Linked DNA regions of Homo sapiens: regions 2, 3 and 4 are each linked to region 1. Evidence: fine-mapped expression QTL. A gene starts in region 1. Each other region holds a variant in brackets. All regions are shown on one strand. Distances are from middle to middle.

Region 1 (5,149 bases):
AACAACAAAATAGAAAACTTTCTAGAAAACTAAGCTGTTTGGTTTACCAAGCCTACATAAATTGCCTCTCATTTATTATAGAGGTGACAAAAGACCCAATAACTGGGAGAAAAGGCAAGTGTTGAAATAACAACCAAATCACTCAATATTTAATTTGCTTTTATGGCACAAAAATAGGTAATGCACTTTATGGTTCAATCATTGGCCAGAGTAGGGAACTCCAGGATTTGAAGGGCCAGATAGTATTTTAGGCTCTGTGGGAGCACATTCCTCTCTGTAGTGTATTCTTCTTTAAAACATTTTACAACCCTTTAAAAATGTAAAAACCATTCTCACCTCATGGGCCTTAAAAAACTGGCAGAGGACCAATCCCTCTGGCCAGTTTGCAGACCCTGGTGCAGTGGAAACAACCTTGACGTCATGAGACCTGGAGTCTAGGACATTATATTCCTTCCTCTCTTTGGGCCAGTCATCTCATCCATGAAATAAAAGGCATGGAAAGAGGTTATCTCCCAGATTTTAATTTTTCTCACTTGTAAGTTATGGATCCCTAAGGCCCCTAGGAGACAAACACTTCCTCTGCTTAATCAAGTCTTATACTCCCATACATTTAATGGCAAACACTAAATGCCAGTTGTAACTTCTCTTTAGTACAAGTGAATTCAAAGTTCAAGAGAAACGAAAACCCGGAAGATGGCTGAGGAACCAAGGTAAGGATGGAAGACTGCTCTAAGCCAGGGGCTGGGGAAACCTCCCCGCCTCCATTTTTACTCTTCTCCAACCCACTTCTCTCCCAGCAGCCGAATGAATCTTTCTAGAAGCTGATAGTAACCACTCCCTGACTTAACATCTGTCAATACAGGGCTCTCAAGGCTCACTCCTTCAGGACAAGCCCCTGCCTTGACAACTTCATGGGTCGTGGTCTCCCCTTATCCCCACCCCAGCGCTCTCTACTCTGTTCTCTGAACCAGCCACCCCCAAGTTCCAACAGTTCTCAGAGAGAGTCAGACCCTTCCTGGACACTTCCTACGTAAAAGGGATTGAGAGGAGCAAACGAATGACTATCTGTACTGTTGCCCAAATACACTGCACACCAGAACTCCCCTCTCTTTCCCTCTTAGAGACATTAGGGCTCAAAGGGTTGTATCCTTATATAACCCCTTTCTACAACCATAGAAGAGGCTGCAGGGAGGCTGAAGTGACATGTCCAGGTTCACAGTTGAATTAGAACCAGGCTCCACACCACTGATTTGAAACCCTGGAGTCCTGATAGTGCTGTCAATCTGAAAGGGACATCAGGTATGGCCTAACTCAGCCCTCTCGGTGCACAGGTGCAGATACCCAGGGCTTCCCAGCCTGCCATCTCCCTGAACCTTCATTTATCAGTCCCCAGTCAAACGCACCTCCTCCTCCTCATCAGGTGTGCCAGGCTCACTCCTGTGGCCGCAGGAGGCCACACGCGGGCCCCGGGGTCATGGGGGCGACCGGCAGCTGCGCGCCCCAGCTGGCCGCCCAGCCCCACCTCCTGTTTGCCGCCCGAGCCGGGAAGGGGCGCCGCTCCCCGGGACCACACTCACTTGGCGCCCGCGGCCTGGAAGAGGTCGGCCCACTCCTCCGGGTGGAAGAAGCGCGCAGTGAACTGCGGTCCGAAGTCGGCGTAGCTGAAGCCGGGCGGGTAGTTGTCGCGCATGAAGCGCTGGTACTGCGGCCGCCCCTCGCCCTGCCAGTGCCACCAGAACCACTCGCTGCCCCAGGCGGGCACCGAGAACACGCCCCAGTGGATGAACACCCCGAACTTGGCTTCGTCGAACCAGGCCGGCAGCGGCCGAGAATCCAGGCTCGGCCAGTCTGGGGTGTAGCGGCGCGGAGGCTGGGCCCGACGCACCGACTCGGCCGCTCCGAGGAAGAGCAGCAGCAGCAACAGCGCGGGACCCGCCGGCCGCGACCTCATCCCCGGAGCCCGCATCGCTACCCCTCAGCGACGCGGCCCACTCTTAACGCGCAGGTGCCCGCGGGCGGCTCCGCCCACTCTGACTAACGATTGGCCCGGAAGGAAAAAGGGGTGGGACAACCTGGACAGGTTGGCCCGAGTCGCTTCCTCCTCGGGTCGGAGGAGCGCCCTCTGGTGCTCAAGAAGGGAAAGACGCAGGGAGGCGTTGACAGCGCTTCGCTGAAGGACGAATAAAAACCTTGAAAAGGGACTTAACTGCGAGGTTAAATCGTGGAGGTGAGCAAGGCCCAGTGTGTGCGGAGAACTCACATTTAAGAAGGAGTCCATTGAGCCGGACGCAGTGGCTCACGCCTGTAATCCTAACACTTTCGGAAGTCGAGGCGGGAGGATCGCTCTGAGCCCACAAGTTGGAGACTAGCCTGTCTCTATAAAAAATAAACAAAATGAGCCTGGCGTAGTGGTGCACGTCTGGAGTCCCAGCTACTCGAGAGGCTGAGGTGGGAGGTTCGGGATCGCTTGAGCCCGGGAAGTCTGGGCTGCAGTGAACCGAACCGTGATCACGCCTCTGGGAGTAGTCCATTTTGCCGCAGCAATCCTGCAGGGGTAGGCTGAAGTGAGATCACGAGTTTTATTTAGTGATCACTTGGGAGCCATAGGGGGCTTTTGAGTTGTCCTGTAGCACAAGGCTGGAGGAGGAGATAACAGACCGGAAGGGTATCTAACAGCCCTGACAGAAATAAGGAGGTAGAGGGATGATGGGAAGAAACGTTATGAAAGGAGAGGAAAGAGAAAACTGGGTACTGAAAGAGGGAGAGCGGGCAGGACCGTTTCATCTGTCTGGTATTTACTGAGCTTTCTTTGGGAATTCCGAGGCATTTCAAATAGCTTAGTTTGTACCGAGATACCGCCACTGCACTCCAGCCCCTGGGCGACAGAGCCAGACCAAGGAAGAAAGAAAGGAAGGAAGGAAGGAAGGAAGGAGGAAGGAAGGAAGGAAGGAGGAAGTGGAGAGCCAAGAGGACCCAGGATTGCCTGGCAGGGAAGTTCCCCAGTTCCTCTGCAATTTGCACATGCTGCACATACTCAAACGGGAGGTGAGGCCATTAGCGAGGGAAATACGGAAGTCAGAAGTCTCTGAACAGACAAGGTGGCTCACGCCTGTAATCCCAGCACTTTGGGAGGCCGAGGTGGGCAGATCACCTGAGGTCGGGAGTTTGAGACCAGCCTGGCCAACATGGTGAAACCCCATCTCTACTAAAAATACAAAAATTAGCCGGGCATGGGGTGCGCCTGTAATCCCAGCTACTCAGGAGGCTGAGGCAGGAGAATTGCTTGAACTCGGGAGGTGGAGGTTACAGTGAGCCGAGATCGCACCACTGCACTCCAGCCTGGGCGACAGAGTGAGACTCGGTCTCAAAAAAAAAAAAAAAAAAAAAGAAAAAGAAAAGGAAGAAGAAGTCTCATGACTCCACGTAGCACACTCAGTTCCCACATGCCAGTGAGAGAATGGCAGCACATCAGAGTTGGGACTTTGAAGATCCTAGGCACCATCCTCTTCCCTACCCTTCCCATTGTACCGAGGAGGGAACTGAAGCCCAGAGAGGGCTGGGGGGCTGCCCAAGATCATGCAGCTAGTTTGAGTCAGAGGTGGGACTAGAATACGTGTCTCCAGGTGCAAAATCTATGCCTTTGTTCATGCTGCTTCTTTCTTGCACCTCATGAGAAGTCAGAGCCTATGTTGACAGAACCCAGCACTTCCTCACTCTGGCAGTGACAAGGAGAGAAAATGACTATTGCTGAATCACAGCTGTTTTCTTTTCTTTTCTTTTCTTTTTTCTTTTCTTTTCTTTTGAGATGCAGTCTTGCTCTGTCGCCCAGGCTGGAATGCAGTGCTGCAATCTCAGCTCACTGCAACCTCCACCTCCTGGGTTCAAGCCATTCTCCTGCCTCAGCCTCCCGAGTAGCTGGGTTTACAGGTACGCCACCACGCCTGGCTAATTTTTGTATTTTTAATACAGATGGGGTTTCGCCGTGTTGGCCAGGCTGGTCTCGAACTCCTGACCTCAAGTGATCCGCCAGCCTCAGCCTTCCAAAGTGCTGGGATTACAGGCATGAGCCACTGCACCCGGCCTACAGCTATTTTCTTTATCTTCTGTTTCTTTTTCTGCCAGATTATGTTGAAATATTGCCCAAAACAGTAAGCATGAACACCTTAGGAAAAAAACCGAACCCATCCACACACATTTTCTAGTAATCGGTTTGCATAGTGGTCTTTAATGTTACAGAGCTTGTCTTGGGGAAGATAAAATGGGACATTGTGATCTTCAATTTATTTCTCCTTATCCACATAACCAAAATGTGAACCTGCAGGGACAGGTGAGAGGCACTGATGTAGAGTGGACAGAACTGGAAGTTAGGAAACCTAGGTTTGTTGCACTGGACACCATCTCGTTTGTCTCCCTGAGCAAGTCTTGTCCACTGTCTGGGCCCATTTCCTCAACCAAACAACAAGGGCAGTTCTCAGTGATATCTAGGTCCCTTTTGCACCCTTGTTCTCCTCCCTCATAAGCTCTGCTTCTCCACTTAAAGCAGACATAGGGGCTGGGAGTGGTGGCTCACACCTGTAATCCTAGCACTTTGGGAGGCTAAGGTGGGTGGATCACTTGAAGTCAGGAGTTCAAGACCAGCCTGGCCAATATGGTGAAATTCCATCTCTACTAACAATACAAAAATTAGCTGGGCATGGTGGCGGGTACCTGTAATCCCAGCTACATGGGAGGCTAAGGCAGGAGAACTGCTTGAACCCAGGAGGCAGAGGTTGCAGTGAGCCAAGATTGCATGCCACTGCACTCCAACCTGGGTGACAGAGTGAGATTCTATGTCAAAAAAAAAAAAAAAAAAAAAAAAAGCAGAAATACAGTGTGGTTCTAAAAGAAGAGAAGTAGAAAGTGTGGAGTTGCGTTTGATCAAATGATTTTTAGAATCTAGTTTTATTCATTCAAGAAGTATTTACTCAGTGCTTGTTTGTGCCAGGCACTTGGGCATTTTCTTTGCCAAAATGAGAAAGGATTCCACCGATGAATAAAGAAAGGCATGCTTCAACTTTAAGGAATGACAGTATATAAACATGCAAATTCACTTTTAAACATTTATGCTACTTGTTTGCCTTACAAAAAGATTGGTGTCTGGATTAAAACA
Region 2 (5,149 bases), 24 kb before region 1:
TGGTCAACATGGCGAAACCCTGTCTTGTCTAAAAACACAAAAAAATTAGCCGGGTGTGGTGGTGGGTGCCTGTAATCCCAGCCACTCGGGAGGCTGAGGCAGGAAAATCACTTGAACCCAGGAGGCAGAGGCTGCAGTGAGCCAAGATCAAACCATTGCAATCCAGCCTGGGCAACAAGAGTGAAACTCCATCTCAAAAAAAAAAAATGACATTGGATACAATATTGAATTATTGTTGGGGACACATTGGGGGCTTGATTTTGAAAGGAGTTGGGCTGTCAGTTTTCTTAGCTGCCATCATTGAATAATGCCCAAGAGCACGGGTACACTTGAAACATTGGACGTATTGAAGACATAGTGTTGGGGCCATACTTTGGAATTAAATTTTTGAGGACTTGGTTCTTCTACTCCTCTTGATAAAAATGATCCTGGATTCATGCCGTAAACCACTCCAGACATTTGGTGTCTTCTAGAAGATTTAAGAGCTGAGAACATTTTGGCCAGGCGCAGTGGCTCACACCTGTAATCCTAGCACTTTGGGAGGCTGAGGCGGGCAGATCACTTGAGGTCAGGAGTTCGAGATCAGCCTGGCAACGTGGTGAAACCCCGTCTCTACTAAAAATACACGTGCCTGTAATCCCAGCTACTCGGGAGGCTGTGGCAGGTGAATCCCTTGAACCTGGGAGGTGGAGGTTGCAGTAAGTCAAGATCATGCCACTGCATGACTCTGTCTTAAAAAAAAAATCTGAGAACATTTCTAGGGCTGGAATTTTGCGATTTTGCCACCAGGAGTTGGAATTTTTCATGGATTCACCCAACAGGATTTGCTCAACACATTCTACAAAGTCAGCAAGGCTGGGTCAAGAAAACTCCAAAAGGTCTGAGAGAGGCTGCCTGGCACCATCTTGTCACCCTTGCATCCCCTTCCTTTGGGAAATGGAAGCTGGAAACTTGGGGCCATTGGAGCTGCAATGGTTTGGTGCTTCTTGCACAACTCTTGCTAATTTCATTTTAGTTACTTATATCTTTGGTTATGATAAATGGAATATTTTCATTGTATTCTAGTTTCTGGACTGTAGAAATGTAATTGATTTTTGTCTCTGATCCAACAACTTATTAATTCTAATAATTCATTTGTATATTATTTGAGGTTTTCTATGTGGACAGTTTCATCACCTGAGAACAATGACAGTTTGGTTTAATCCTTGCTGCTCCTTACATCCCTTTACTTCCTTTGCTTTTTAAATTTTATTATTTAGAGACGGGGTTTTGATCTGTCACCCAGGCTGGAGTCTAGTGGTGTGATCCATCTCAGCTCACTGCAGCCTCGACCTCCCAGGCTCAAGCAATCCTCCCACCTAAGCCTTCCAAATAGCTGAGACTACAGGTGTGCACCACCACGCCTGGTTACTTTTTGTATTTTCTGTAGAGATGGGGTCTTGCTATGTTGCCCAGGCTGGTCTGGAACTCCTGGACTCAAGAAATCCACCCGCCTCTCCTTCCCAAAGTGTTAGGATTACAGGCGTGAGCCACTGTACCTGGCCTTCATTACTTCTTTCCAGCCTTCTTTTTAACATAAACATTTAACGCTATATTTTCCTGAAGTACTTTTATTTTTAAAGCTACATCTTATAAGGTTCAATATATAGTGTTACTATCATTCCAAGTATTTTCTTTTCTTTTTTTTTTAGAAGTGTGCATGAAGTTGCTTTAAGACTGTGAAGAACCATATAAGCAATATTATTATCATCAGCTTGCTCTCTAATTCTGGGCAGAAAGTGATCTAATTAAAATTGGCTGTGCTAATCTACTTACACTAATGTGTTACTTTTTTCTTTCACAACCAGGCTTCATTTGCCTCACAAGAACTACATATTTGGAATTCTTTATATCTCATGGCACAATCCATAAATTTATGAATCAGTAACATAATGAGTTAGTGTATTTTAACTTTTACAAACACAGTTTTTTCTTCTCCAAGTTTTTGTTATTGTTCTTTAATTATATTGTAGACACTAAATAGCTTATATGATGTTGCTTCTTTGGTATTTGAGATTTGCAAATGTTCCATATGTGCTTGAGAAAAACACATATTCCTTAAATGTTGGATAAAGATTTCTAAATATATCTACTTGGCTGGGTGTGGTGGCTCACACCTGTAATCCCAGCACTCTGGAAGGCTGTGAGGTAGGTGGATCACTTGAGCCCAGGAGTTCGAGACTAGCCTGGGCAACATGGTGAAACCCCGTCTCTACAAAAAAAAAAAAAAAAAAAAAATTAGCTGGGCATCGTGGTGTGCCTATAGTCCCAGCTACTTGGGAGGCTGAGGAGGAAGGATCACTTGAACCTGGGAGGTGAAGGTTGCAGTGAGCCGAGATCACACCACTGTACTCCAGCCTGGGCAACAGAGCAAGACTCTGCCTCAAAACAAAACAAAACAAGATTTCTAAACATATCTATTAAGGAAAAATTAAATAGAAAACTTGATTAGATCTCTAACAAAGAGGCTGAACTGGTAGTCAATTCAGAAGAATGGTATTAGAAGTGAGAAGCAGAAAAAACACAGGAATTACATTTTTTGTTCAGTGTTAAGGAGATTTTGCAAATCTCCTTAAAAAAAA[A/AC]ACACACACAAACCAGAAACTGATCTTAAAGCTATAAGCAGTATAAGTTGAAACTAGGAAAAGAAAGCTATACCATGTTTTTTTGGTAGAAATGATTGTGATGTACAAATTTTTTATTTGATCATACTTAAAAAGACAGAGCAGAATCACATTCATTTTCTTAATAGTATCACTGTAAACATAGCGAATTTTGGCGCTTTTAGATTGCTCTGAAAATTTCTGAAGAGTTGACCATAGCAGCCTGGTAAGCCTTTTCCTTTCCCCCAAAGCTCTCCTGCCCTTTGCAGAAAGACTGTTGGTGACAACTGATGCTAACTAAATAGCATGTGGTTGAGCTTGCCAAATCCTTCCACCTCCTCCCATAGGCAACAGGGTGACTTGGCTTAAAGGCATTGAGTAAGCAAGTAGGTTATCAGAGAACAGAGGGAAGATTCCATTGTAGATAATTTCCAAATATTACAATTGATGAACTCAGAGTTCAACTGCTCAGTTCCTTCTTCTGCTGACCTGATACAGATATAATCACAATGGATCTCAGATCTTTGGTCCATTTAGACATCAGGGTAATGTACTCAGTTCCTTTAATTAAAATGTGTTGGAAAAGCCATCTCTGGGTGGAGAAGAGAAGTTCGTTGATTATAGTGATGGTACTATAAGAGAAAAACTGAAGCAGGAAAACAGTGAGCAGCGCCTCTTTCTTCTTGCACTCAAATGATTACTTCACTCCTGTCAGCTTTATAGTCCAAGCAAACTCTGCGGGGACAGCAGAGGGTGGCAACTGGGGTAGAGAGATGAAGAGACCTTTATCTGGATCTGTGGACCACTTCAGATCTCCTTGAATTCCCAGCATTGTTATCTGCAGAAAACAAAAGGGAATGAAACAAACTGGTAATGCACTAATGAGTATAGAATACAGGCTGACTATGGTAGGAAACAGCCACGCTGGGCCAGGGCAGGAAAGCCAGTCTAAAAGAGGTGTGAATATGGGAGAAACCTGGCAGGGAAGGAAGAAAGGAAGGATCTGCCAATTCCTTTACAGAAAGTTACATCTTAAGACTGACTAAGCCTCTTTACCTTTGTAGTTGAGGTAGTTATGGGGGATTCAAGGTTTAAGACTCCATTTTCTGGCCAGTGCAGAAAAATGGCATAAACAGCCGATCCCTTTGAGGTATACCTGGGAAAACAGAAACAACACTGTCAAAGATACCTGACTTGTTATCCTGATATACAACTTTATACATTTCCTCCTTTTTAATGTTAATTTTCTTTTCTTTTCTTTTTTTTTTTTTTGAGACAGAGTCTCCCTCTGTTGCCCAGGCTGGAGTGCAATGGTGTGATGTTGGCTCACTGTAACCTCCGCCTCCTGGGTTCAAGCAATTCTTGTGGTTCAGCCTCCTGAGTCACTGGATTACAGGTGTGCACCACCACGCCTGGCTAACTTTTGTATTTTTAGTAGAGATGGCATTTTGCTATGTTGACCAGGCTGGTCTTGAACTCCTGGCCTCAAGTGATCCACCTGCATTGGCCTCCCAAAGTGCTGGGATTACAAGTATGAGCCATTGCACTCAGCTCCTTATTTATTTTTTTTTTGAGACGAAGCCTTGTTGTCCAGGCTCTTGTTGTCCAGGATGGAGTGCAGTGGCGTGATCTTGGCTCACTACAACCTCCACTTCCCAGGTTCAAGCAATTCTCCTGCCTCAGGCTCCTGAGTAACTGGGATTACAGGTGCCTGCCACCATACCCTGCTAATTTTTGTATTTTTAGTAAAGACGGGGTTTCGCCATGTTGGCCAGACTGGTCTTGAACTCCTGACCTCAGGTGATCCACCCGCCTCGGCCTCCCAAAGTGTTCGGATTACAGGCGTGAGTCACTGTTTTGGGCCTAATTTCTTTTTTTTTAAGTGATGGAGTCTTGCTGTGTTGCCCAACACAACTTGCTGTGTTGTGCTGGGCTCAAGTGATCCTCCCACCTTGGCCTTAGAAAGTGCTGGGATTACAGGCATGAAGCACTGCACAAGGCCACTCATTCCCCTTTCAATTATCTACCAAATCCCAGTCCTCGAGTCTGTCACTGTTACTAGGGAGCACCAATAACTCAATACCAATGAAGGTGTGCAGGAAGGAGGCAGTCTATAAAACTCTATCTGGTGATACTATCTATTTTCCCTACCAATTGGGTTAAGTTGTCTTTAAAAATTATCTCCTACATCAGTTACTGCAAATAAATAGAGCCATTTACCTTATTATTCAAATCTCTTTTCTATTCCAAATCCATGTGAAAATAGCAGAGACTATAACAAGGACAAGACATGCAATGAAAACAAATTTGTTGTTCAGAGATTTCTTTTTTTTTTTTTCTGAGACTGCACCCAGCCTGTTCTGAAATTTCACTATGTTTAGAGAAGAGGATGAAAATCACTACTATGGTTTGAATGCATCTCCCAAATCTCATGATGGAAACTTAATCCCCAAATTCATATGTCGATGGTATAGTATTTAGAGGTGAGGCCTTTGGGAAGTAATTAGGAT
Region 3 (5,149 bases), 33 kb after region 1:
AGATTTTAAATGTTACCACAAAGAAATGCGCTGTCTCCTTTATCCTCCAAACTGCCCTTGGAGATAGACTGTCTCATTTTCACGATCTTATCTATGAGGAACCAGAGGCTCAGCTAGACTGGATTTGCCGAGGTCACAAAGTTTGTAAATGGCAGAGTCAGAATTCAGACTCATATATCTGGTGCCAGACCCTGACCACAGAAGTTGGGCAGCCTAGATGTGAAACCACCTTTGCAAAATTATGACTGAGACTGTGAAAGAGATCTAACTTAACTGACTCCATCTTGCTTCTAACCTCCAAGGTGTCCTTGTTCATTCCTGGGCTGAACTAACTTTGGGAGAAACTTAGTTTAAAACTAAGACAATAACAGCCCTTTCCCAAAGTACACCTCCTTCTTGGCTGGGGACTAGATTGCCTTTGTAGGACTAATATTAGGCACAAGATTAGAAATTATGGTTTAGGGTCTGGTGTGGTAGTTCACGCCTGTAATCCCAGCACTTTGGGAGGCTGAGGCGGGTGGATCACTTGCGGTCAGGAGGTAAGACCAGCCTGGCCAACATGCTGAAACTCCGCCTCCACTAAAAATACAAAAGTTAGCCAGGTGTGGTGGTGCATGCTGTAATACCAGCTACTCGAGAGGGGGAGGCAGAAGAATCACTTGAACCTGGAAGGTGGAGGGTGCAGTGAGCTGAGATTGCGTCACTGCACTCCAGCCTGGGCGACAGAGGGGTCTCTGTCAGAAAGAAAGAAAGAAAAGAAAAAAAAGAAAGAAAAGAAAGAAAGAGGGAAGGAAGGAAAGAGAGAGAGAGAAAGAAAGAAAGAGAAAGAAAGAAAGAGAAAGAAAGAAAGAGAAAGAAAGAGAAAGAAAGGAAAGAGAAAGAAAGGAAAGAAAGAAAGAAAGGAAAGAAAGAAAGAAAAGAAAGAAAGAAAGGAAGGAAGGTTTAGGAGTCATGCAGCTGGAGGCTACAAGATTCTGACCCTCCCTAAACTGCTCCTGCGATCAGTGCTTGAGATACTTTGCAGACCCTGCACTTGATGGATCAGCTGGCACCACCCAAATCCATAAACTGGCTCATGTGATCTTGTGGCCCCCACCCAGGAACTGACTCAGCGCAAGAGGACAGCTTCGACCCCCTGTGATTTCATCCCTGGCCAATCAGCACTCCTGGCTCACTGGCTCCCCGCAACCAAACAAACTGTCCTTAAAAACTCTGATCCTTGAATGCTGGTGGAGACTGATTTGAGTAATAATAAAATTCCGGTCTCCCGCACAGCCAGCTCTGCATAAATTACTCTTTCTCTATTGCAATTCTCCTGTCTTGATGAATCGGCTCTGTCTAGGCGGCAGGCAAGGTGAACCCCTAGAGGCTTATAGACGGAGGGGCATGGGGTCTCTCTTATACTTCTGGGCAACCATCTCTTCCCTGATCTCTTTTTTTTTTTTTTTTTTTTTGAGACAGTTTCACTCTTGTTGCCCAGGCTAGGGTGCAATGGTGCAATCTCGGCTCACTGAAACCTCCGCCTCCCAGGTTCAAGCAATTCTCTTGCCTCAGCCTCCCAAGTAGCTGGGATTACAGGCATGTGCCACCACGCCTGGCCAAGTTTGTATTTTTAGTAGAAATGGGGTTTCTCCATGTTGATCAGGCTGGTCTTGAACTCCCAACCTCAGGTGAACCGCCCGCCTTGGCCTCCCAAAGTGCTGAGATTACAGGCATGTGCCACCGTGCCTGGCCTCCCTAATCTCATTTTTATCCTTCCCACCTTGGACCATTTTACCGAGCCACGTTTCCAGCTACCAACCAAATTGTCCTTAAAATCTCTGATCCTCGAATGCTGGGGGAGACTGATTTGAGTAATAGGACACTAGAATGGTCGCTCCAAGGGAGTTAAGGCTTATTATTTGTTTTGTTCACTCCCGTATCTTAAGTGCACCTGCCTCACCCATGGTCACTGCTCAGTAACTCTTTCTTTTTTTAATTGTAGGCAACCTTTATTACAGAAGTCCCTTATTTTAAGTGACTTTTTGCCGATTTTAGATTTGAAGGGAAGGTCTACAGTTAAGCTTGGAACCACTTAGTATCCAAGAGGGTGGCAGGAACATGCAACCCCTCAAAGCAGGTGGCATGGGTGCCATTGGGAGGGGATCTGGGGCCTGTCTTGTGCCCTAAATCTTCCTCCACCTGAGACGTGCACCCCAGTGTACCAGAGATGCCTAAGACTCCAATCCCCCAGCTCTGGCTGTGTGGAAAAGGTGCCTACTTCACAGAATCAAGCTTCAGTTGACTACATGCCAAAGAGAGACAAGGTTAAGTGTGGCCTTTCATGGTGTCAAGAAGCAGTTAGTGTCCTGATTTCCCCTCCATCCACTCGC[C/T]GACCTGCTGCAGCCTCCCCGGGCACCTCAGGCATAGAAGATGAGCTCAGGGATCTGCCCACCCTGGACCCCAGTCCCGTTGGTGCTGTCCGAGGAGCACTGGAACTGGAAGGCCACCTTTCTGCACTGCACTTGCGTCATCCCCTCCTGCCCAAAGTAGCTGAGGTTGCTGCCGTCCAGAACAGCACTGGCCATGTAGAAGGTGTCTTGTTCAACCTGGACCGGGTGTTCAAACCAGACCGGGAAGGTGTTACTGGATCTGTCCGACATGAATTTGGTCAGATTCTGAGCCAGAACTACCCCAAGCCTCTTGAGCTCAATCTTCACGCTGTACTCAGCCTTCCCAGAGCTGGACCCACACAGGCCTAGCCCCGCAATAAATACCCTTCTGTCCACTGCAAACTGGATGCTGTCGCAGCGCCCGCAGTACTGGCATTGGTTGCTGCGGTAGGCAGAAGACTGGAATAGGTGGCACCTCTGCGGGGTGAGGCCCTTCCTCTTGATCAGGGGGAAGTCCAGGCGGGGCTTGTTGGTGGCCGTGTACCACAGGAAGATGGTGTGGGTCTCCTCCAGAGTCAGGATGTCTGGATGTCTGACTGGGCAGCGCCGTTGGCAAACTCCTCTAGGGTCATGGTTGGAATTCGGATCAGATAGAGGGCTCGCCCCAAAACATGCCTCTTGTTTCGTGGGGTGACTGGCAGCCCCTGCCTCTTGCACTCTGCCTTGGCCCAGTTCAGGACGGCCTTGAAGACCACCGCCTCCTGGTGTTGAGGGCCTCCCGAGTGACAATGATCTCCAACGTCTGCCGGTCCATCTCACAGAAGCCTTGGGACCGCAGGGCCATCTCGGCCTGTGCGTCGATGACCTCCCAGCAGCGCTGGGTCAGGTCGGGCTCCTCAAACAGCCGGCTCTGGGACAGCAGGACGCAGGCGTTCTTGGCTTTCAGACTTGTCCCCAGAAAGTTGACGCAGGCTTTTGCCAATGCTGGGACGATGTACTTCTTAGCAGCCTACAGAGTGGCCAGCACCGTATCCGCTTCCAGATCGATCTCATCACTGTACACGTACTTTAATAGGATCAGAAAGGCTGCGGGCTCCACGTCTGGAATGTGAATTTCAGATTTGACTTCCGCCAGGTCCCAGTAGAACATGGCATAGAAGACGGAGCTGCAGACAGCCAGGACGTACTTGTGGGCGGGCACCGTCCTGGTCGCCCCCGGGGGTCCCACGACAAAGTGCACGTCGGCCACGAGCTCGTTGTTGAACATGAGCGCGTTCCTCTCGCGCAGCGTGGGGGACCGCGCCATTTGGGGCTCTCCGGGTGGTTGTTGCCAAGTGTGGGCTGCGCGGGCGCGGGCGCGGGGGCGCGGTGCAGGCTGCGCTGCCCGGCCTTCCTGCCCACGGCGGCGCCGGCGTTGCTGTGGGCTAGGACCGCGGCCGCGGCGCTGGCGGGGACGTAGAGCTCCGCCGCCATCCTCGAGGGCGGGGCGTCGGGGGCAGCCTCGGAGCCTGTGGACCCCCGCCCCGCGCCCTCGCGCCGCGCCGGGGCCTCGGGAGCGGCTCTGCAAGCAAAAGCAGGGAGGTCGGGCGCTGAGCGACGCGGCGGTGATGGCAGGCCAGGGGCAGCACCATTCATGGGCGGCGGCGGCGGCGGCGCTGCGACCCGCGGGGCTGCCACCCGTGCCCCTACCACCCCCGCCCCTGCGATCCTGCCAGAGCCTAGCCTAGCGCAGCCGGGCCAGGCCTGGCCGCAGCAATAACTGCTTTTTAATGGATTGGTTGGAGGTATTCTCTCTGACACATGCCAGCATCCTCAAGGAGGGTAACCTGCTTTCTAATTTTCAAAGTGAGGCCGGGTGCAGTGATTCACACCTGTAATCCCAGCAATTTGGGAGGCTGAGGTGGGAGGAGCGGTTGGGCCCAGGAGTTCAAGACAAGCCTGGGCAACATAGGAAGACCCCGCCTCTACAAATAAAAAAAAATTAGCCAGGGGTAGTGGTTCATGCCTGTGGTCCCAGGCACTTGGGAGGCTGAGGTGGGAGGACCACTTGAGCCCAGGTGGTTGAAGCTACAGCTAGCCGTGATGTGCCACTGCACTCCAGCCTGGGTGACAGAGTGAGACCCCAGGCTTTGTCAAAAAAAAAAAAAAAAGCATTTCTTTTTAACGTGCGTCAGTAAGAAGGGCATGCCTAGGTTAACATATCAAAAGTGCTCCTCATAGTATCTGTGAAACAGCCTTGCAGAACCTAACCTGCCAGGCCATAAATGCAAGGGTGAAAATGGGATTGTGGGGAGCTTCACTTTAACAATAGCTAGTTGTGTAAAATGCAATTAATCCTCACAGTAAGTCAGGAAGGGTGGTCCTATTATCATCATCTCTGTTTTGCAGACAAGGAGACGGAGGCGCAAAGATGCAGTGACTTGTCTGAGGTTGCACAAAAGGGCAGAGCCCGATGTGAACCCAAACCTGTGCCCAGGTCTGCAACTGTCACAGGAGCCTGCCTCCTAGTTGCTCAGCTGGCTCCTGCGGCTTTCTCCCGGGGACTTCTCTCTAATCTTTCTGGGGGGCCCTTTGAAATGTTAAAAAATTGCATTTGGGCTCCCGATTTTCTGCTTTACCAGATTCCAGAGTTCACACTGCCTGAAGACAGGAATCTTAGCTTTGCCCCACTAGGGAGCTCCTTTGTGATCCAGGTGATGTCACTCAGAACTCTGGTTTTTTTGTTCGTTTCATTGTTTTTTTTTTTTTTTTTGGAGTCTCGCTCTGTCACCCAGGCT
Region 4 (5,149 bases), 37 kb before region 1:
CTCGAACTGCTGACCTCAAGTGATCCATCCACCTTGGCCTCCCAAAGTGCTGGGATTACAGGTGTGAGCCACCGCGCCCAGCCTAATTTTTTTTTTTTTTTTGAGACAGGGTCTTACTGTGTCACCTAGGCTGGAGTGCAGTGGTGCAATCACAGCTCACTGCAGCCTCCACCTCCCTGGGCTCAGGTGACCCTCCCACCTCAGCCTCCTGAGTAGCTTTTATGTATATATAAATTTACATATATAATTTTAAATATATTAATATATAATATATACTTATAAATTATTATATAACAAATTATATAATAAATATATTATATTTTATTTTATTTATAATTATATATTTTTATATAGTATATTTATATATAATATACTTATTATATATGCATATGTGTGTGTGTGTGTATATATATATATATATATATATATATATATATATATATATAAAAACTCTCCTATTGGTTCTGTTTCTCTGGAGAACCCTGTCTAACACAATGAGCAATAATGTTGCTCATAGTAACATTATCTGTGATGGCCAAAAGGCGTACAGAACGCACATGTGCATTAACAGATAAATGGATGAACAAAATGTGCTATATTGTATACCTACAATAGTTACTCATTCTTGAAAAGATATACAATTCTGACACATGTTGCAACATGGATAAACCTTAAAAATATTCTGCTAAGCCAGACACAAAAGGGCAAATTTCATGATTCCACTTATGTGGGTGTGATGGTTAATTTTATGTGTCAACTTGACTAGGCCACAGGGTATCCAAATATTTGACTACACATTATTTCCGGGTGTGTCTGTGAGGGCATTTCTGAATGAGGTTAGCATTTGAATCAGTAAAGGGAGTAAAGCAGATTACTCCCTCAATGTGGGGGGCATCATCCAATTCTTCGAAGGCCTGAATAGAACAAAAAGGTGGGGAAGGAAGAATTCTCTCTTCTACATTCAGACTGGGACTTACACTACACCATTGGTTCCTCTCATTCTCAGGCCCCTGGGCTTCAACTGGAGCTACACCTCACTGGCTTTTTTTGGTCTCCAGCTTGCTGACAGCAGATCATATTTCATACATATACATATCTTTTTTTTTTTTTTTTTTAAGATAGAGTTTTGCTCTTGTTGCCCAGGCTGGAGTGCAGTGGCGCGATCTTGGCTCACTGCAACCTCCACGGGTCAAGCGATTCTCCCGCCTCAGCCTACCGAGTAGCTGGGACTACAGGCACCCAACAACACGCCTGGCTAATTTTTGCATTTTTTTTTAATAGAGACGGGGTTTCACCATGTTGGCCAGGCTGGTCTTGAACTCCTAACCTCAGGTGCTCCAGCAGCCTCCAAAAGTGTTGGGATTACAGGCGTGAGCCACTGGGTCCGGCCTATATATCATCTTTTATTGGTTTTGTTTCTCTGGAGAATCCTAACTATTACAATGAGGACTTTATTATAGTCAAATTCATAGAGAAAGAAAGTTGAATAGTAGTTATTGGGGGCTGGGAGTGGAAAGAAATTGGGAGTTATTGTTTAATGGGTACAGAATTTCAGTTTGGGATATGAAGGAGTTCTGGATAGTGGAGATGGTTGTATAACAATGTGAATGTACTTAATGGCACTGAATTAAAATGGTAAACTTTATGCTATATATATTTTAAACAATAAAAAAAAATAAGTAACTGCACAAGAAAAAAAGACTTAGGCAAGGCATACCCTTGCCAGCTCCCCAGTCCCTACTACTCCTAATTGTCACAGACACGAGGCTTCTCTCCTTCCTCTGTTTGCCCCCCTAAAAGCCCTTGTTGGCAAATTCTCAAAAGTAAATAACTTACAAGCACAGCTCTGAGGCAAATGTCTAAACTAAAGGGCAGAGACTTTAACTGGTTGTTGAATGTGGTGTCTCCAATACCAGGCACATTTGGTGGCATGAAGTAAATACTGAAAGAGTAACACTAGCAACTGTTACAGACTTTGCTCAGGGTCACCCTTAGTTGGAATCTTATTTTAACCAAGATGTTTCCTTTTTTGCATTGTAACCCACCCTCAATTACAAAGCTTACAATAATTATTAACAATAGCCCCTACCATTTATTAAGTATATTTTCTGTATTGGTTGTGATATATAGTAACTTTTCATGAGTAATCAGACTCTGCAACATAAATGTTACTCTTTCCATCTGAGAAATGAGGAAAC[G/A]GAGGCTTAAGAGACATTAAATAACTTTTCTAAGATCATGTATGGTAGGTAAGTTCAGACCCAAATCTGACTCTAGAGAATGCTTTCTTTGCTACATGATAACACTATTCCCTCTTTCCTCTTCCTTTCTCTCCAAATTACTAAAAGAGATGGCTGCTGTGATTAAGGCACAAGTTGGTGCTAGGTGCTAAGACCGCAGTAGTAAATAAGATTCACCACAATTCTGTGCACCTTTCTCAGACCTTCAGATTTTATGGTAATAGTTTTTTTTCCCAGGACTTTTTTTTTTCTTTTTAATTTTTTTTTTTTTAATGAGACGGAGTCTTGCTCTGTCGCCAGGCAGGAATGCAGTGGCGTGATCTTGGCTCACTGCAACCACCACCTCCTGGGTTCAAGAAATTCTCCTGTCTCAGCCTCCCCAATAGCTGGGACTACAGGTGCCCACCACCACACCTGGCTAATTTTTGTAGAGACGGGGTTTCACCATATTGGTCAGGCTGGTGGTCTCAAACTCCTGACCTCAGGTGATCCACCCGCCTCGGCCTCCCAAAGTGCTGAAATTACAGGCATGAGCCACCACGCCTGGCCTCAGATTGCATTTCTAATGCACAACAGCAAATTTCTGTTTATAGCTTTTCCTTAAAAGCAGATGACATCTCTTCTGCAAGTGGGAATAATAATGTTTAAATCCAACATCTGCCTTTCTGCAAATCCTGTGAGAGCAATAGCAGACTTTTTACAGTAGTGGAACTTAGTCAGTGTCAACTTTTATGAATGTTTATGATATTCTGGTCCATAAAGCAAATTTCAAAAAATTGGTGACATGTATATCCTATTAATTAACCATAATTAATGACAAATGGATAAGTGTGTGTGTGTGTGTGTGTGTGTGTGTGTGTGTGTGTGTGTTTGAGACAGGGTCTTTCTCTGTCACCCAGGCTGGAGTGCAGTGGCACAATCATAGCTCACTGCAGCCTTGAGCCTTTGGGTTCAAGTGATCCTCCCACCTCAGCCTCTCAAGTAGCTGGGATGACAGGCACATGCCACCATACCCAGCTAAATTTTTTGTTTTGTATTTTTTGTAGAGATGAGGGTCTTACTATGTTGCCAAGGCTGGTCTTGAACTCCTGGGCTCAAGTGATCCTCTCACCTTGGCATCCCAAAATGCTGGGATTGCAGGCATGAGCCACCATACCCAACTGGATAACTCATTTTAAGAAGAGATGAGATTATGTTGAAAATGAAGCCCACAGCAGCAGGTCATACACATCAATTTTTGGGGAATAAACTCATCTTGTTTGTGCCTTAATTGAAGAGGACCGACAATTAACAGCACAAACAGTAGCCAACACCATAGACATCTCAATTGGTTCAGTTTACACAATTCTGATGGAAAACTCAAGTTAGAGCAATTAAGTTAGACATAACTTTATGCTTGGAAAGTATGGGGAAAAAAACCCTAACTCATGGGTCAAAGAAAAAATCAAAATAGAAATTATAGGCCAGGCACAGTGGCTCACACCTGTAATCTCAGCACTTTGGGAGGCTGAGGCAGGTGGATCTCCTGAAGTCAGGAGTTTGAGACCAGCCTGGCCAACATGGTGAAACCCTGTCTCTACTAAAAATACAAAAAATTGGCTGGGCGTGGTGGCAGGTGCCTGTAATCCCAGCTACTTGGGAGGCTGAGGCAGGAGAATAGCTTCAACCTGGGAGGCAGAGGTTGCAGTGAGCCAAGATTGTGCCATTGCACTCCAGCCTGGGCAAGAAGAGCAAGACTCGGTCTAAAAAAAAAAAAAAGAAAAGAAAAGAAAGAAATTATAATAGGCCGGGTGTGGCGGCTCCTGCCTGTAATCCCAGCACTTTGGGAGGCTGAGAAGGGTGGATCACTTGAGGTCAGGAATTCAAGACCAGCCTGACCAACATGCAAAACCCTGTCTCTATTAAAAATACAAAAATTAGTTGGGCATGGTGGCTGATGTCCATAATCCCAGCTACTACAGAGGCTGAGGCAGGAGAATTAATTGAACCCAGGAGGCGGAGGTTGCGGTGAGCCGAGATCACACCACTGCACTCCAGCCTGGGTGACAGAGCAAGAGTCCATCTCCAAAGGAAAAAAAAAAAAAAAAGAAATTACAATATACTTAGAATTAAATGATAATGGAAATATATTAAAAGACAAATGCTTGTATTGGAAAAGGTAGTTGAAGAGTAGTGAATGAAGTTTCTAACTCAAGATGTGAGGCCAGATGCAGTGGCTCATGCCTGTAATCCCAGCATTTTAGGAGGCCGAGGCAGACAGATCACCTGAGGTCAGGAGTTTGAGACTGGCCTGGCCAACATGGTGAAACCCTATCTCTACTAAAAATACAAAAATTAACCGGGCATGTTGGCACACGCCTGTAGTCACAGCTACTCGGGAGTCTGAGGCAGGAGAATCGTTTGAACCTGGGAGGCAGAGGTTGCAGTGAGCCGAGATCATGCTGCTACACTCCAGCCTGGGTGACAGAGCAAGACTCCATCTCAAAAATAAATAAATAAATAAAAAGAAAAGAAAAGAAAAAGGTGTGAGAAAAACAACAGACAAAAAGTAAGTAAAATAAAAGACAAAATAAAAGACAGAAATTTGTTTGTTTTTTGAGACAGCATCTTGCTCTGTTGCCCAGAGTAAAATGTGGTGGTCTGATCACAGCTCACTGAAGCCTCAACCTCATGGGCTCAAGTGATCCTCCTGTCTCAACCTCTCGAGTAGCTGGGACTACAGGCATACACCATCATACCCAGCTAATTTTTGTATTTTTTGTGGAGGGGGTTTCGCCATGAACTCCTGGGCTCAAGCGATTTGCCTGCCTCAACTTCCTGAAGTGCTGGGTTTCAGGCATGAACCACTGCACCTGGCCTGAAAAGGTAGAAATTTGAATAAAATAAGAAAATATTACAACAAAGAGGATCAT

The links.
Region 2: its variant is fine-mapped to the expression of FUCA1 in whole blood (TOPMed, PIP above 0.99).
Region 3: its variant is fine-mapped to the expression of FUCA1 in whole blood (INTERVAL, PIP above 0.99).
Region 4: its variant is fine-mapped to the expression of FUCA1 in whole blood (TOPMed, PIP above 0.99).

What each region holds. Positions count from the first base shown.
Region 1 is chr1:23,866,321-23,871,469 of GRCh38, forward strand. FUCA1 (alpha-L-fucosidase 1) reads right to left here and starts at 1,970. Exons shown (of 8, transcript NM_000147.5): 1 at 1,578-1,970. The coding sequence starts at 1,966. CNR2 (cannabinoid receptor 2) reads right to left here. Exons shown (of 2, transcript NM_001841.3): 2 at 4,195-5,149. RefSeq lists an enhancer at 1-131 and a silencer at 1,382-1,601.
Region 2 is chr1:23,842,379-23,847,527 of GRCh38, forward strand. FUCA1 (alpha-L-fucosidase 1) reads right to left here. Exons shown (of 8, transcript NM_000147.5): 7 at 3,696-3,795; 8 at 2,699-3,477. The coding sequence ends at 3,337. Among named protein-coding and RNA genes, the nearest start is that of HMGCL, 20 kb to the left of the region's middle. The variant A/AC (reference allele first, on the strand shown) is at 2,622.
Region 3 is chr1:23,899,072-23,904,220 of GRCh38, forward strand. The region is part of intron 1 of CNR2 (cannabinoid receptor 2); the gene reads right to left. It also overlaps the pseudogene BTBD6P1. Among named protein-coding and RNA genes, the nearest start is that of CNR2, 12 kb to the right of the region's middle. The variant C/T (reference allele first, on the strand shown) is at 2,373.
Region 4 is chr1:23,829,710-23,834,858 of GRCh38, forward strand. The region is part of intron 1 of LOC105376861 (a long non-coding RNA gene); the gene reads right to left. Among named protein-coding and RNA genes, the nearest start is that of HMGCL, 6.9 kb to the left of the region's middle. The variant G/A (reference allele first, on the strand shown) is at 2,199.